2 separate regions of the Homo sapiens genome follow, and region 2 is linked to region 1. Evidence: fine-mapped expression QTL. Tissue or cell type: whole blood. Region 1 holds a variant in brackets; the other region holds the start of a gene. All regions are shown on one strand. Distances are from middle to middle.

Region 1 (3,020 bases):
GTAAGATACTCCATGAGGAGATCAACCCCAAGACACATAATCATCAGATTCTCCAAGGTCGAAATGAAGGAAAAAATGTTAAGGGCAGCCAGAGAGAAAGGCCAGGTCACCTACAAAGGCAAGTTCGTCAGACTCACTGTGGACTTCTCCTGAGAAACCCAACAAGCCAGAAGAGATTGGGGGCCAATATTCAACATTCTTAAAAAAAAAAGAATTTCCAACCCAGAATTTCATATCTGGCCAAACTAAGCTTCATGAGCAAAGGAGAAATAAGATCCTTTCCAGGCAAGCAAATGCTGAGGGAATTTGCCACCACCAGGCCTGCCTTGCAAGAGCTCCTGAAGGAAGCACTAAATGTGGAAAAGAAAAACCATTACCAGCCACTACAAAACCACACTGAAGTACAAAGACCAAAGACACTATGAGGCAACTACATCAACAAGTCTGCAAAATAGCCAGCTAGCATCATGATGACAGTATCAAATTCACATAAAACAGCATTAACCTTAAACGTAAATGGGCTAAATGCCCCAATTAAAAAACACAGAATGGCAAGCTGGGTAAAGAGTCAAGACCCATTGGTATGTTGTATTCAAGAGACTGAGCTCATGGGCGAAGACACACATAGGCTCAAAATAAAGGGATGGAGGAGAATTTCCCAAGCAAATGGAAAGCCAAAAAAAGCAGGGGTTGCAATCCTAGTTTCTGACAAAACAGACTTTAAACCAATGAAGATTAAAAAAAGACAAGGGCATTACATAATGGTAAAGAGTTAAATTCAACAAGAAGAGCTAACTGTCCTAAATATATAGGCACCCAATACAGGAGGACCCAGATTCATAAAACAAATTCTTAGAGACCTACATAGAGACTTAGATGCCCACACAATAATAGTGGGAGACTTTAACACCCCACTGTCAATATTAGACAGATGATCGAGACAGAAAATTAACAAGGATATTCAGGACTTGAACTCAGCTCTGGATCAAGTGGACCTGATAAATATCTACAGAACTCTCCACCCAAAAACAACAGAATATACGTTATTCTTGGCGCCACATGGCGCTTACTCTAAACTTAATCACATAATTGGAAGTAAAACACTCCTCAGCAAATGCAAAAGAACCAAAATCATAACAAACAGTCTCTCAGACCACAGCACAATCAAATTAGAGCTCAAGACTTAAGAAACCCCCTCAGAACCACATAACTACATGTAAGATGGGTGTGGTGGCTCATGCCTGTAATCTCAGCACTTTGGGAGGCTGAGGTGGGTGAATCACTTGAGGTCAGGAGTTCAAGACGAGCCTGGTCAACATGATGAAACCGTGTCTCTACTAGAAATACAAAAATTAGCTGGGCATGTTGGCATGTGCCTTTAGTCCCAGCTACAAAGGAGGCTGAGGTATGAGAATTACTTGAGCCAGGGGGTGGAGGTTGCAGTGAGCTGCGATTGCACCACTGCACTCTAGCCTGGGTGACAGAGCAAGACTGTCTAAAAAAAAAAAAAAAAAAAAAAAAAAAGAACCACACAGCTACATGTAAATTGAACAACTTGCTCGTGAATGACTCCTGGGTAAATAATGAAATTAAGGCAGAAATCAAGAAGTTCTTAGAAACCAATCAGAACAAAGAGACAAAGTACCAGGATCTCTGGGATGCAGTTAAAGCAGTATTAAGAGGGAAATTTATAACACTAAATGCCACATCAAAAAGCTAGAAAGGACCGGGCACAGTGGCTCACGCCTGTAATCCCAGCACTTTGGGAGGCCAAAGCAGGTGGATCATCTGAG[G/A]TCAGGAGTTTGAGACCAGTCTGTCCACCTCTACTAAAAATACAAAAATTAGCTGGGCATGGTGGTGGGTGCCCAGCTACTAGGGAGGCTGAGGCGAGAGAATCACTTGAACTGGGAGGCAGAAGTTGCAGTGAGCCAAGATCGTATCATTGCACTCCAGCCTGGGCCACAGAGCGAGACTCTGTCTCAAAAAGAAAAAAAAAAAACTAGAAAGATCTCAAATCTAACATCACAATTAATAGAACTAGAAAACCAAGGGCAAACAAACCCCAAAGCTAGCAGAAGACAAGAAATAACCAAGATCACAGTAGAAATGAAGTAGATAGGGATATGAAAAACCCTTAAAAAATCAGCTAATCCAGGAGCTTGTTTTTTGAAAAAAATTAATAAAATAGACTGTTAGCTAAACTCATAAAGGAGAAAAGAGAGAAGAATAAAATAGACACAATAAAAAATCATAAAGGGGATATCATCATTGACCCCACAGAAATACAAACAGCCGTCAGAGAATACTATAAACACATCTATGCAAATAAACTAGAAAATCTGGAAGAAATAAATAAATTCCTGGACACATACAACCTCTGAAGACTGAATCTGAAAGAATTTGAATCCCTAAATAGACCAATAAAAGGTTATGAAATTGAGGCAATAATAAATAGCCTACCAACCAAAAAAAGCCTAGGACCAGACAGATTTGCAGCTGAATTCTACCAGAGGTACGAAGAGGCACTGGTACCATTTCTTCTGAAACTATTCCAGACAATTGAAAAGGAGAGACCCCTCCCAACTCATCTTTTGAGGCCAGCATCATCCTGATACCAGAACCTTGCAGCAATACAGCAACAGCAACAACAACAACAAAGTTCAGGCCAATGTCCCTGATGAACATCAATGCAAAAATCCTCAACTGGCAAATCAAATGCAGCAGCACATCAAAAAGCTTATCCACCATGATCAAGTTGTCTTCATCCCTGGGATGCAAGGCTGGTTCAACATATGCAAATCAATAAACATAATTCATCACATAAACAGAATTAAAGACAGTAACCACATAATTATCTCAATAGACATAGGAAAAGGCTTTTGCTGAAATTCAACATCTCTTCATGTTAAAAACTCTCAATATACTAGGTATTGATGGAACATACCTCAAAATAAAAAGAACCTTTTATGACAAACTGACAGCCAATGTCATACTGAATAGGCAAAAGCTGGGAGCATTCC
Region 2 (2,500 bases), 58 kb before region 1:
CTTATAATAAAATTACTGTCCATTTTACAGCATGAAGATAATGAGGTGCAATGATTTAAATTAACTCTCCTCAAAGCCATACTGCAAGTTGAGTGGTGAAACTGTGACATAACTCAGGTCTAAATCTTACTGTTCCTTTCACTATGCCATACTGAAACACTCTATGAATTATATACTACTGTTATGGTAACAGTGGAAAGTGAAAATATGTTTTATTATAATGAAGAGGCACATTATGCTTCCCAAAAAATAAGGAATTTTAAATTATGTTACATATTCACATATTTAAGTTATTGTAGATGCCACTTGATATGGTCGACAAGTGTGAAAATGTCCACATACATCCTTCAGTATTTTAAATGTATAACCTTTGGTATTTTACAAGTTTGAATATTAGCAGTTAGTTAAGCCTCAAGTGGACTTATCTACTTTTTGCAGGCCTACATTATCTTTCAAACAGAAGGGAAGGGCTGCACGTCTAACAGAAACGCTGCCGGCTTCTATCAAGCCACCACTAAAGCACAAGACCACGTGGTCTCTCATAAGCCCAAGGTTCCCTACTCCTCTCCCTCCTTTGACAAGGAACTGGAAACTAGGGTTTCTTTCTCTTATGTGGAGCCCTGACATGCCACCTGTGTAGTACAGACCGCAAACATCCTGCAGCCTGCCTCCCGGAAGACCAAGAATCAGAATAAAAGGGAACTTGGACGCCGACAATTCTAGGAAAGGAAATGAACAGAGAAGTAAAGCCGGTGAGATCGTGATAAGCCGCGGCACCGGGACCTGTCAAAACGGCGTATATAAGACTCAAACCAAACCACTATAACCTATCATTCGGGAAGGCCTGAGGTGGGAGCGGCACTACGGAAGGAAGGAGGACGAAGAGAACCGCACGAGTCAGAACCGCCGCCGCCGCCGCTCCCCGGATACCTTTCAGCATGCCCTGGCAAGCCAAGAACCCTGACCCTCATCTAGAGTCCAACCTTTGCCCCAACATTTCAGAAGCGGCCAAAATCCCGCTGCCCCGGCGGCCGCCGCCGGACCTGCCCGCACCTGTCACTAGCGAAAGAACCAGCTCGCGGCTCCCGCCCACTTCTCCACTATCCTCGGGCAACCGCGGGCATCTCAACCCCTTTCTCTTACCAGGTGTCCCCTTTCCGGAGCGAGGTTTTGAGCAGCGTCGCGATGTCAGACCGCTGGGTGTCCAGATCCGCCGCTCCGCCTTCCGCCATCTTCTTCCACTAGCGGTAGGGGAGGTGGCAGCGACGGCGGCGGCACGCCCCAGAGCATTATGGGAATGGCGTCCCACGGCCCCTCCCAGTCGGCCGGTCGAAACCAAAAGACACCGGGAGCGGGGGTGCTCCTCGGGACAAGAGGAGGCCCCGGGGGCGCACTGGGTGCGCGGCCATGGTCTGCTGCCCCCCATCGGTCCCCGCCCGTCCAGCATCTTGCCTTGGCCTCCTCTGGCCCGGGACTGCCGGGTTTTAGCTTTCCTCGCCGCCGAGGGCTCTGGCTCTCTCTCGCTAGAGGGATGCCACCGCCCTGTCCTCCCGTCCTCAGCGTTGCCTTCCCCTCCCTCTTTCCCACTGACGCCTTGAAAACCCTTATTTGCGCATTCACTCACGCTTGAGGGTGAGGTAGGGTGGGGCGGTGGTGTGGGGGCGTGGGGACGGCTAAGATATGGCAGAAAATGTAGCAGCTCAGTGACTGGGCTTTTCGTTACGAGTGGGAGAACCCAAGCTCGGTGAATATGGGCACACACAAAAAACACTCCGAAACCGAACGCTTGGTCTCCATGCCCTTCCTGGGTTCCTTCCAGCGCTCTTACTCCCGTTGTAGGTGGGGACCCTTTATAGGCTCTTTGTGACGCCTCCCCAGGCACACCCAGACGACTAAGCTGCAGTGAAAAACATGTCCCAGTTCATCGGTGAACAGGGAGTAGAATATGGACAGTATTGAATAATGCCAGATACTAAAGGAAGAAAACGTGCGAGAAACCCTCTTGTTTATACAGGATAGTAACATTTTCTTAGCCCCATCTTCGTATGGTGCCGTACACCTGAAATGAAACTAGATATGTCTTTAATTTGAAGTCAACGATTATGTTACAAAATAGAAAATCGAGTCGCTTAAAAATCAAATGCCAAGGTCACACAGCAGGTGGAGAGGTGAGTGGAGAGGCTGGTTCAAGAGCCCACATGCTATACAGTATAGCACACTCACTGCCTCTCCTTCTGAAAGCCTGAACTAAAATGTAAACTCTTTAAGAGCTGGAACTGGGTTCATCTTTTGTTTTAGCCTTTGTACACCTGGTGGTTAGCACAGTACTGATGGACATGTAAAAATTACCTAAATATTTGTTTAGTAAATGAATTGTGGCAAAATTACTTAAGTATTCCCGAGCATGATGTCCAGGGGTGTGATTTTAACATACCATATTGATGTGAAAAGTCTAAAAGATGGGCCGGAATCCCCACATCATTTCTCGTTTGCCCATTTT

The links. PIP is the estimated chance that this variant, and not a neighbour inherited with it, causes the effect.
Region 2: USP15 starts here. The variant in region 1 is fine-mapped to the expression of USP15 in whole blood (TOPMed, PIP above 0.99).

What each region holds. Positions count from the first base shown.
Region 1 is chr12:62,201,326-62,204,345 of GRCh38, reverse strand. It overlaps a transcript of TAFA2 not described here. Among named protein-coding and RNA genes, the nearest start is that of TAFA2, 10 kb to the right of the region's middle. The variant G/A (reference allele first, on the strand shown) is at 1,794.
Region 2 is chr12:62,259,147-62,261,646 of GRCh38, reverse strand. It overlaps USP15 (ubiquitin specific peptidase 15), which reads right to left and starts at 1,243. Exons shown (of 22, transcript NM_001252078.2): 1 at 1,144-1,243. The coding sequence starts at 1,232. MIR6125 (microRNA 6125) reads right to left here and starts at 1,288; the gene lies at 1,193-1,288. It also overlaps a transcript of TAFA2 not described here. RefSeq lists enhancers at 1-14, 738-787, 1,008-1,367, 1,918-1,987 and silencers at 1,408-1,517, 1,598-1,657.